2 linked regions of the Homo sapiens genome follow. The protein of the gene in region 1 purifies or fractionates together with the protein of each later gene. This does not show direct contact. Each region holds a gene or a part of one and is shown in the gene's direction. Other genes may lie near its edges.

Region 1 (7,032 bases):
AGAAGACAGGAGGTATTTTCTGCTCTTGTGTGTTTTAACTGAAGAGAAAAGCAGATGCAGCAAAGCACTGCTTGGGGGGAGCGGGTGGGGGTACATGGTGTCTCTGAATAAGATCTGGTGCCTGACCTGCAGCTCAGAACAGCTTGAGGCTGGCCAGTTGGCTTGGGTTAGGGAGTGACTTCAGACATCCCAGGAAAAAGAGGTTATCCAGATGTTTGCCAAGAGTTCTTTCTTCTGTAGGTGGAGCAGGAAGGAGAAAAATGCCCAGGCTGTTTGGTCATTTATTAAACACTGTTATGCACTGGTCCCTGAGAGCTCAGGAGTAATGGGAAGGCTGCCATGGAGTGGACTCTGTCCCTTTGCACTCAGTGCGATAAGAAGTGATACCCCTAATGTTTACTGAGCCAGGTTCCTTAGCACTTTCTCTATATTAATCCTTCTAATCTTTCCCACAACCCAGTGAAGAAAACACCAAGGTGACCCTCTTTATAGATCAGAAAACAGGCCTGGAGGGGACCCACGCCTTGCCCAAGGTCACAGGTTGGATACAGCAGAGCTGGCCTCCAACCGTGGAGCCCGTGCACTTAACATCTATTTGGATGGAAGGCTCGAAGGTTACCTGAGACAACCTGGTCAAGGTGATAATGTGGGAGAATGTGGCCAGTGGTTCCCAGATGAGTGAATGATCAGTGTGCAGTCACCAGAGGATGGGTGATAAACCGAGAACCACAAGCTCTTAACACTGTGGGGTGGGCGAGGCTTCATCTCCCAGGATGCAGCACTTGCTGAGTTGGGCAACAGGGGACCCTGGTTGATGGCCCAGGTTGGTTGGAAGCCTTTGGGAGATGTGCTCTGTGTTGGTGGGGAAGGCCAGGCATGGTTAGATCCCCTGTAGACTTGGGGAGCTCAGTTTCAGAAAGTTTCAAAGATCATCACTTGATTTCTGTGATTCACGTGATCTGAGGGCTCTGAAAGTGGTGGGTGAGTCCTGGAATTAAATCTGTTTTTTTCAAGTAGGAAAGACATGGGGTGGCAATGAGAGACATCTGTGTGGCTCAGAAAGATGTCTTGCTGAGGTCAGAGGGACAAGAGCCAAGGAGAACAAGAGGAGCCCTTCCCAGGACACTCACAATGACAGAGTGACGAGGGCCAGTAAAGAGTGTCAGGGGGTGAGAGCCCGGGTGTGAACTGAACCTACTGAGGAGAGCTGACGACCACAAAGCATCTTTTCATATCATGTTCGGAGCAAGGAGAACAAGGGCTTCATAGATCCATCGCCGTCTAGGGCAGCTGGTGTCTGTGAAGGGGAGGAAGGCACAGCTCCACTGTGCCCACAGCGGTCTGGACAGAGGAGGATCTGCAGGTGCAAAGGGCGCAGGCAGGTTCCCGGAGGAAAGCAGGAGCCACGTAGCGTGGGCTGCAGTGTGTGTGCTCAGGGCTCTGACCAAGAGAATGCCCTGGCCAGGGTATAGCATGACCTGGAATGAGATACCCCCATCTGAGGTGCTGTCTGAGAGGTGTTGGAAATGAAGCCCGGAGGTGGAAGAGACTCAAATCTGATGTTGGCCCTGGGAAAGATCCTAGACTAAGAAGAAGGCTGTGAGTCTGTGGGCAAAGGAGAGACGTGCATGAGGAGCTGGCGGGGGCTCCCTGGGGACAAGTCATGCCAGCCTCACGTCATTTTCCACCTTGCAGGTCTTCGGTCTGGCCCTTGTTCTGTTGGGGTTCTGGAGGACGTGCTGTGCCCTGGCCTTACTGACCTTACTCCATGCAGTGCTGATGCATGCGACAGCGGTGACCCTCCAGGGTCCCAGGTGGGATGAAAGGTCCCCAGCTAGTTCCTAGTTTCATCTCCTCATTTTCTCCATCCTCCTGCTCCTTCTTATTAAGATCTGGATGTTAACATTGATGGAGTGTGAAGCTGGGTGGGATATTTAATTCAGCAGTTGGCGGTGTCAGGATCCACAGTGGTCTCTGAAAGCTGAGATGCTGCCCTGAGTTTATCGGGATGGCATTTGGCAGATTGGAGATAAGTGCATCTGAATTGAGACACATAGCTTCCCTCATATGGTTTTTATGAAAATGAAATGAACAAGGTGCCTTATTTCATTTGTTAATACTATTGTTTGTCATGTAGATACTTACGTAGCCGATAAATGGTAACTTCTATTCTGATACCCTGAAGCATCCTGATAGCAAATGTTCCATCCTGCTGTAAAGGAGAACTGGTTTCTTCCAATTAGTCATACATGAGTAGGTCTGGGATGGCCTGGAGAGACAGCTTAGCCAGAGCGCATTTTACAGATGGAAACCTGAGGCTCAGAGAGGTTGAGTGCTTTGCTCGGGAACACAGAGAGGAGTGATGTTTCTGCCTCTGCCTCTTTGGGAGACACTGGCCGACATTCACCTCTGACGTCAGGCACCCCCTCTGAGGAATCCACTCAAAAAGGGCATCAGGAGTGGTGTGGAGCCTGCTGCACCACGTGGTTTGCGTCCTCTTCATGAAGTCACACGGGGTGGTCTGCAGGGCAAGGCGGGGTGGCGATGTTCCACAGGAGCTAGTCAAAAGCTTGTGACAAAAGGGAACGTGAGGTTTTATGTTCACTTTTCTTGCTTTCTCTCTGATTTATCCCATGCTTTCACTCCATGAGAGGGTTGGGCTCTCTGTCTCATCTCCTTGAGAGCTCCTGCAGGAAGTGGCTGGACGCAGGTACATCCTTTCATGGCTGGGCGGGAAGCAGGGAGAGGAAGAAGCTGATTTGGCCCAGGCTATATTTATGCATAGCAAGCCATGGAGGCTCTCATCCACTCCTAGATTCTCCCTGAGCCCTGGGATAAATATTTTCTAAGGATGAGAATTCTGGAATGCTGAGTGGAGTCTGGTTCTGCCAGTACCTCTCACCAGTGGAGGGGGCACTTGAAGAGCTTGAGTTCTAGTTTCCAGAACTTGAGGGTGGGGCTGGTGAGAGCGGGTAGGGATGAAGGCATCCCAGCAGGGCTGATACCACCTCCCCATGGGTGCCACCTTTACATGTGGTCAGTGCATGTCTTCCCTTCCACACCGTGGGCACTTCCAGGGTGAGGCTGAAAGCTGGTCCATCCATGGAGGTCCAGTTTGGCACAGGCAGGCAGTTCGCGAAGCTCTGCCAGGGGAGCAGAGAAGCGAGTGGATCCATGTGTGGGGAGAACCAAGAGTGAGCACTTCTGGCGAGTGGAGATGAGGTTACACATGCTCTCTCTAGGGGCAGGGCCAGGTGGTGGGGTGGCAGCCCCTTAGTGTGGGGGTGGGGGCCAGGCACAGCCAGACCCATCCTGCCAAGCCTGCATGTGCATTGCTCCAACTTTTGTCCTTCTGTGCACCTATGCCTACAGATCCCCTGTCCCCAGGTGCCTGAAGTGGCCTGGCACTCCTGAGGGTCAGGAGAAAAAATGAGTATGGCAACCAGCAAGGAAGGAAAACTGCCCTCAACCAGGGTGCAAACACAGTCGAATTAAGTCAGAGCTGGCAGGCAGAAGCCCTGTGTGCTCTGTGAATGTGGCAGCTGCTGCTAGATGCTGACAGGTGCAGGGGCAGGGCTGAGCCGGCGCCTCCGGGTGGCAGCCGTGTGTGTGTGTGTGTGTGTGTGTGTGTGTGTGTGTGTGTGTGTGTGATTGTTATTGCTGGCTCCTCTGGGTGGCAGCCATGTGTGTGTGTGTGTGTGTGTGTGTGTGTGTGTGTGTGAGATTGTTATTGCCGGCATCTCTGGGTGGCAGCTGTGTGTGTGTGTGAGTGTCTGTGTTTGATTGTTATTGTTCTGTGAGAGAGTCCTGGAGGTATAGTGCTCTGAGCTGAGGTGAGTTGTCACATCCATAGCAATCAGGATTCTTTGGATGCAAACCACAGCGATGGACTCTGGCCAACTTTGTGAAGAAGGAATTAATTAGAAGGTTATGGTGGCAGGTAGATCACAGTGTCAGAGGAAGAACTGGAGAAATAAGCTCAAAAAAGACCGGGATTGAGCTATTCAGAGAGTTCCAGTACCAGGCACACATAAGCAGCTTCTCAAACTGAAACTGGGTTTGGTTAGGAAGGATGCTGAGTAGCATAAAACAGAACCAAGCCATCTGACTGCTCTTGTCGTAGAGATCGCGTATTCCTCCTTTCCTGTCAGCTGGTTTAAAAACCTGGGGCAAAGGGGGACCCTGCAGTCCACCCCACTCTTCCTGAGATGCCCTGCGGGGGTTGCAGAGATAGATCAAACACAGGCTGTCTCTCCCCAGGGACCAACAGTCCAGTAGGTGATAGCGGCAACACTGACTATGGCCAGGCAGGCTGCTGAAGGTGGTCTCTGCAACCCGAGTCAGCATGGCAGCCCTGACGGTGTTTTGGTGTGAGCAGCTCGCAGATGCAGCCCAGTTGTTTTGCTTTCTGGGCTGCTTCTTGAGGGTCACCTCAAGTCTGCACACAAGGGTAGAGCTGCAAGCTCTGGAGGGAAATAGCACTGGGTTATAATTTCCACTGGAGGACATCTATAATTTCATGTCTCTGAGTGTGAGTTTGGCCACAGGCTCCTCTGTAGGTGTCTGCACGGGAACCAGTGAGGACCCTCAGGCTTGAGCCCCCATTCTGCTGGATCTGGTGGTCTGGAAGGCTGGGCATAGTGTGACTGCCTCAGCCCCTCCATTTGTGCTAGGGCTGGGGGAGAAGGAGGATGGGGTGGGGAGTTCTCTGACTTTGCACGGTGGGAGTACACCCTTCTTGGAGGATATGAGTGCAAATGGATGTCAAGGAGCCCAGAGCTCTTCAGAGCAAAGAGCTGGGCAAATTCCTGGCTCCCACTCTAACTCTCTCTCCTTATTCTCCCATACCTCCCTCGGCAGGGTTGAATTTCACAATTGGGTCTGACCTGGCTTAGTGTGAATGAAAAGTGGTCGTTTACAGGAATCCTCTCTGTCTCGCTGAATTCCTGCCCCTCAGTCTTTTCCTCACGATTGAAATATACCCAGCCCTTCTTTTCCACTAGGACTTTGCCTGTGCCATCTTACCATCCCTGATTGGTGAACTCGTATTCATCCATCAACACCCAGAGATAATATCACCTCCTCAATGGGACATTCCTCAGGCACCCCAGGCAGTCCATGGTCCATCCCTGATCTTGAAGCATTTCTCCCAAACCACTCAAGTGGGCTTGTCTCCATCCCAGGTCCTGTTACGAAGAGGTGTTTTTCTCTCTCATTGCATGTGGAGCAATACTTCCATGCTATTCATCCTGTTATCACAGAATAAAAGAACGACTGTCTCCCCTAAGAGATATGGTGTGGGTCCCTGTGGCTAGACCATGTGATCTTACCCATAAACAGTCCTCACAAACACTCTCGATTTACGTCTAACCCACTCTTGTCACTGCCTGGCATTCGCGTGTGCCGTTCTTTCTGCCCTCTCTTTTCTTTGTATCTGTCTGCCCTTTGGAGGCCTCCTGCCTCTTCCAGGAGGGTCTCTCTGATTATTCTGGTGCCCAGAATTAGAAAGTATATGGGGTACATGCTGTGGTGTGTGGTAAGTGTTTAACAGCTGGTTCTCAGCATGTAGCTGCAACATGGATTTTGGGTGATATTTTCATTTACAATAAAGTGTAAGATGAAAGTGGAACAATGAACATATGTCAGAACTTCACTTGTTTGTCAGTGATCTAAATAACTTCTTTCCTAAATCACATAATAGTTTCGGAATACTAGAAGAATAGTCCCTCAGCTTTTTGTGAGCTATTCACAATATAACAGCTATCGACAAGACAAAAATTTCAGTTTAATCTGCATTATTGACAATTTTTTTCCATTACTTTCTTAAGTCCAGACAATGAACAAAACAAGAAATCAAGCCTTGATTTATAGCATTTCCATAAATAATCCCATTCTGGCTGATTCCCTGATTTCTGGCCACTCACGATATCCCTGGATGTGGCATGAGGAGGAGTGGACCGTGGCAAGCCCCCGCACCGGCAGGTGGAGCAGCGTCCACAGCGTAGGCAATGGGAATGTGTAGTAGAATGACTAGGAAATGATGGGTTCTGAGTATGTATTGCCTGTGTTTTTAATATAACTTCTTTGACTGTAAGTTTGTATAGTTTAGTTTTGAATAATGTCTGAGTTAAAACAGCTAACTTGAAACATTCCTGATCATCTCACAAGCCACTGTGAGCTGGCTCCAGCACACCACTGGCTGCATACCAAGAAAATCAAGTTGCAGGCAGAGACGAAAACCTTCAGACAGAATTGCGTGGCTGTGTCCACTCAGTTTCGTCAGGGGGTGAGCTTTATTAAGTGCCACAGTAACAGATACTGTCATTGGTTCAGTCAACAACTGTTTCTAACCCCATCTCACTTGGCTTTCCTGCACTGCAGAGGTTGGGAAGCTAAATCCATGTTTCCCAGACTCTTTTGCAGCCAGGGTGCAGGCCTTTGACACAGATCCTCACAAGCAGCCAGATACATCACCCAGCCCCGGATGTGCAGTCGAGTCCCATGAGCTGAAGTCTTTGGCATGCAGGTGATATCTGTCACTCACGGTGGCAGGGACATCTGGACTTGTGGGGTGGCTGTGGTGGACTTTGTAGGAGTTTGGTCCCTTGTGATTGGTGCTGGTACCAGCAGTTTCTACTAGACAGTGCCAGGGCATGGTTAGGCTTTTTTTTCTGGCTACCCTGACCCTTGGAGAGCTCCCAAGCTTGGTCTCTGGCTCTCACAGGGATTTAATGAGCTGCATGATAGCCTTTAATAAGTTCCTTTCTGTTTAAACTACCCAGGTAGAGGCTGCTGTCTGCAGGTGGGAAGCCCTGATTGCTGGAACCTAAGGGATGTGAGAAATCACTGTGGAGTGTCAAGGTAACCAGGGATCTGCTCCTGGGACCTATTAATCCACCTCTTTTAGAAGGAGTCCACAGTCCTGTTTGTATTTGAATATTCATGAACATTAGAAGAGCAACTTAGTCTGGGTATGGCTATGGCTGACAGAAGTATCATGCTGTGTCACAGCTGATTATTAGATCTGCATTT
Region 2 (5,116 bases), on another chromosome or scaffold:
AGGTCAGGGATAATTCAAGATATTTAACAATAAGAATAGCAGGACATTAATCAGAATGGACTCTAACCCTGTCAAGATGGAGACCCTGATAAAATCTCATGGAGGGCTTCTTGTTAGTGAGCGGTGTCCTCCCAAATGTTGCTTCCTTCCCTGCTCTGTCAAAAAGAGATTCCAGCAGTAACTGTATTCTAGGATCTCTGATCTCTGACCTCTAAGCAAGGGCCACATGTTCTACCCTACTCAGCCTTAGAGGGGATTGGAGACTTTGTACTAGAAAAGCTGTTTTCAAGGCTCTTTGGGAAACAGAAAATGTGTCTCTGATGAAACTCCTCCATGCCCTTGATTGTTGGAGAACAGCCCTACTAGATACTGTCAAATCTTTTGTTTTCTGTTCTCTGTAGGATAAACCTTTAATGTCTTCATGTTGTGTACAAGATAAATCCAAACCCTAACTTGGTACCAGGCCCTTCAGTATCTAACCCAATCAATTCATCTAGTTTTTTCAAAGCATCAGAGGATATTGGTACAAGAAGCAGTCTAAGATCATACAGTCCAGCAGCTTATTTTACAGGCAAGGAAACAAAGATCCAGAAAGTTGAGCTGATTGACTCAAGTGTCACACAGGAACGTGTTCGCAGCTTCACTCTTGGATTTGCATCAGAAACAGTGAGGGGAGGTAAAAGGTGCTTGGATCTAGATTTGAGATCTGCTTCCACCAATTAGTTAACCTTTAAACTTCCATTTTTTAACACATAAAATGAGATTAATAATTAATGATTTTCGGCCTGGTGCAATGGCTGACGCCTGCAATTCCAGTACTTTGGGAGGCCGAGGTGGGCCACTTGAGGTCAGGAGTTCAAGACCAGCCTGGCCAACATGGTGAAACCCTGTCTCTCCTAAAAAAAAAAAAAATTATCCGAGTGTGGTGGTGTACACCTATAATCCCAGTTACTTGGGTGGCTAAGGCACGAGAATCGCTTGAACCCAAGTGATGGAGGTTGCAGTGAGCCGAGGTTGCAGCAAGCCAAGATCGCACCACTGCACTCCAGCCTGGGTGATGCAGCGAGACTCTGTCTCAAAAAAGAACCAAAACAACAACAAAAAATTAATGATTATCATTTATTGATTACCTGTCCCCCCAAGCATTCCTGATATATATATTACCTTTATTATATGCTACTATGACCATATGTTGTAATTACTGCAGGGTTAAGTCAACATCATAACCTAACTATTTTTAACTGTACTAAATGTATACGGTGTATTTCTGTGTCTTCATTTTTATAAACATTTATGGAATAACTTGTTTTGCAAGCATTGTGTGGAGAAATGTCAGGTCCCACCAAAGTTTAGGCCTATTTTCTGTCTTTGTATAGGAGTTTACAGTTAGACCAAAAGTCAGGCAGTCTCACCAAGTTAAAAAAAAAAAAAAGATGTCTAAATAATGACTTGAAATAATTCATGTAACGCAGATTTTTGTTAGTCTTTCCGGAAGATGCCTGCTAGTAAGTTTGGATGCACAAGAGGGCACACTCAGCATGTGAAATGGGTTTGTTTTTCACAGTAATGAAATGTGTATTACGTTAAGACTCTCTTGTTTAAAAAATTGTCTTAAAATAAATCTCTCCTGATTTATTTAGGGATTTTTGTTTAAAGTTGCTTGGCCCCCAGACACTCTGGTTTAGGCTATAACCCCGATGCCAGAGGATGAGTGGATTTAGGTCAGGGCTTGTCTGTTCTATCACCCTTCATTCTGTGTCTCCCAACTCTGCTGCTACTAGTGCAGCATTGCAATATGGGAGGAAGGAAGTGAAGCTAATGTGTATTAGCTTAGTCTCCCAGCCTCACAACACATGTAACTCTGTGACCTTAGAAAAGTTACTCATCCTCCCTAAATCTCAATTTCCTCAATTTTAAAATGTGGACAACACTCTACATAGCTCTTAGGTTTGTTGCGAGAACATGGGGAAAAAAATCCCTAAGCTAATGCCTTCGTTCATACTAAGTACCCAATAAACGTTAGCACCTACTATGAACTATTATCTTTTATTAGACATCTCTACTACATTCCAAGTGCTTAGAAGTGCTTTATACATGTTCCTTCAAATTAATGTCTGTGACAAACCTTTAAGACAGGTGTTATATCCAATTTTTATTCATTAAAAAAATGAATTAATGCACACAAACCACCTAGTAGAGTATCTGTCTCATGGTAAGCACACAGTAGATGCATCTATTATTATTTCAGATAAGGAAATAGGCACTGAGGATGAGTAACTTTTATAAGGCCACATAGGCAGTATGTGGAAGGGCTAAGATTCATACCCAAGTTTGTTGGTCTCTGAGACCTGAGTTCTTATTTCTACATGTACACACTCTTTTAAGGAATTACGAGTCTCCCAGGGCAGAACATTTTAAGATGGATGTTTGTATCTAAACAACACTTTAGTAAAGTGACAAAGGAAGATATCCATCACTCAGACCACAGCTGAGATTTTTTTTTCCCCATGGCTCTCATGTAAGAGAGGAGAAAGCAGCTTAGGTATTGATTTTGCTGGTGGTGTGCAGGGAAAGGAAGAGTGTTGGTTGTAATACACATACTGGGGTTAAGTAAGATGCTAAACCTCTCCTCCATTATTCTTCACAGAAATTTCTCCTTCCCTGGAACTTGGCAGTCTTTTTGTCTATACTTGTTTGGCATTGTTTATATAGACTATTTTGTTTTGTGAATTGTCATCGCTTTTACCTCCTGCTTTGTTATTTAGGTTAAAGAAAATATCTCATTCTTCTTGGTTTCCCAATTTTTACTGCAGTGCTTGACATATTATGGGTGGTTTTCCTTTACATCTGTTGATGATGGTAATGGGCTGCTAGATCGTTTGAAAAATCCTTCCAGGCCTCTATGCCAGGAGTTATATTGTGGAATTCTGAATGCTTACTGGTTGCTACTAGTGATTCTTGGTCATCTTTCTCCGATGTGCCTCAGAAGGTCTAGCTCTGGATTGATTCAGAGGAAACTAATTATGACAGGCTCTTGGTCCAAGAGACCTCTTATAAGTAGCAATCCAGTAGGTTGGTCATGGAGTACATGATTTCTGGCCAAACTTCATTTAGGCAGGTATTAAAATATACACATTGGGGAGGCTATGCCTTACCCTACTGCATGGGGGTACTTGACACACACTTTCAGTATTTGGATTGAGCATATCTTACCAATGGTATAAACAGGATAAAAACAATCTTGCTTTTCATTTAAAATCATAGCTAGAAGAGATAAGTTTCGTAATTTTCTCTTTTTTTGCCTGTGAATTATAGGGGTATGCAAAATTTGATATTTGGACCAGAAAAATGTTGAGGGTAATTGCAGTTTATGAGACAGAAACATGCCTCCACTGACACAATATAGTGATCAAAAATTTGCTCATGTCTTCTTTCAGGGCAATCATGACTCATGCATCAGTTCTTAAGAATGACAGAGATGTCCTTGGAATTAGTGACACACTGATTCGACTTTCTGTGGGCTTAGAGGATGAGGAAGACCTACTGGAAGATCTAGATCAAGCTTTGAAGGCAGCAGTAAGTCTTATTATTGTGTGTGTGTGTGTGTGTGTGTGTGTGTCTGCTTTATCTTGGGCATGGGGGGTCACTATATTTACAAAGTGTGGTCTCACTGTGAACTCTAAAGCTTTTCTGTTCCTGTAATAGACCAGGTGTATAAATAAACGTATAGGGAGCTCAGTCAAAGTGCATATTTAAAGGATGGTAGTATTCAGAAAAAGGACTTCTTGAGGAGTTGAAGCTATGGCCTATATGTTTAATAACATATTTTTCTTGTGCACTGTTATTATAGCACCCTCCAAGTGGAAGTCACAGCTAGTATTCCAGAGCTGCTATTAGAAGCTGCTTCCTGTGAAGATCAAATCTTCCTGAGTAATTAAATGGACCAACAATGAGCCTTTGCAAAATTTTCAAGCGGAAATTTTAAGGCACCTCATTATCTTTCATAACTGTAATTTTCTTAGGGATCATCTCTGTTAAAAAGTTTTCTGTATGTCATGTTATAATTACAGGTCAATTCTGTTAATATCTTTTTGTTAATTTTGCTCTATGTTTGCCTCTGAAGGAGGTGAGATTTGTGCTACTTTGGGAGATTATGTTCTTTTTTCATGTCTAAGATTTATTTTGATCATGTTTATAATATAATGGTAATTCATTTTTGATGTTTTGTGAAGAATTTAAATTTAAACGAATGTTCTTAAATCAAGTGTGATTTTTTTGCATATCATTGAAAAGAACATTAAAAGCAATGGTTTACACTTAGTTACCATAAGCCGAAAATCAAATACTTGAAAAGTTTACTGTGAAATTCTACTGATTTAAGACTATACTTAATATTTTTAAAAAAATAAATCAGCTGGGCGCGGTGGCTCACGCATGTAATGCCAGCACTTTTGGAGGATAAGGCGGGCGGATCACGAGGTCAGGAGATTGAGACCATCCTGGCTAGCGCAGTGAAACCCCCATCTCTACTAAAAATGCAAAAAAAATTAGACGGACGTGGTGGCGGGTGCCTGTAGTCCCAGCTACTTGGGAGGCTGAGGCAGGAGAATGGCGTGAAACCAGGAGGAGGAGCTTGCAGTGAGCCGAGATCGTGCCACTGCACTCCAGCCTGGGTGACAGAGCGAGACTCCGTCTCAAAAAAAAAAAAAATCTAATTATCAAATGCATCCCATTGTGATATTCCTACATTATGTGACATTAACCTATATTCCTGGGTCCTTTTAATTCCCAACTACTGCTCTTAGAGGTCTTAGCCTTTTATGTTAATTTTTATAAATTCAATTAAATAAATATTATTCCCAAATCTTAGTGTTTGCAGATTAGTTATAAATCCTATCCAAGGTAGGTTAAAGGCCACCGTTTTACAGATAAATAGTACTTTTTATATTTTTATCTGAAATAGTGCATTTGTTGAGAATAAAAGAAGGTATGTTTAAAAATAGAATCTTTTGGGCCTGGTGGTACGTCCTTGTAGTCCTAGCTACTTGGACAGCTGAGGTGGAGGATCTCCTTGAGCCTAGGAGTTCCAGACTGCACTGGCGTCACTGCACTCCAG

Evidence for each region. The genes of interacting proteins can lie anywhere in the genome.
Region 2: the proteins of ZNF488 (region 1) and CTH purify together in Homo sapiens (affinity purification with mass spectrometry; 2 studies listed by BioGRID and IntAct, with this or other methods). This does not show direct contact.

The regions. Positions count from the first base shown.
Region 1 is NC_000010.11:47,374,290-47,381,321, reverse strand, and holds part of ZNF488 (zinc finger protein 488), read left to right. Parts: intron 1-460; exon of another isoform or gene 461-1,814; intron 1,815-6,782; exon of another isoform or gene 6,783-6,861; intron 6,862-7,032. UniProt on the Homo sapiens protein: Transcriptional repressor. Plays a role in oligodendrocyte differentiation, together with OLIG2. Mediates Notch signaling-activated formation of oligodendrocyte precursors.
Region 2 is NC_000001.11:70,435,251-70,440,366, forward strand, and holds the end of CTH (cystathionine gamma-lyase), read left to right. Parts: intron 1-3,437; coding exon 3,438-3,576; intron 3,577-3,850; coding exon 3,851-3,877; 3' UTR 3,878-4,601; downstream 4,602-5,116. UniProt on the Homo sapiens protein: Catalyzes the last step in the trans-sulfuration pathway from L-methionine to L-cysteine in a pyridoxal-5'-phosphate (PLP)-dependent manner, which consists on cleaving the L,L-cystathionine molecule into L-cysteine, ammonia and 2-oxobutanoate.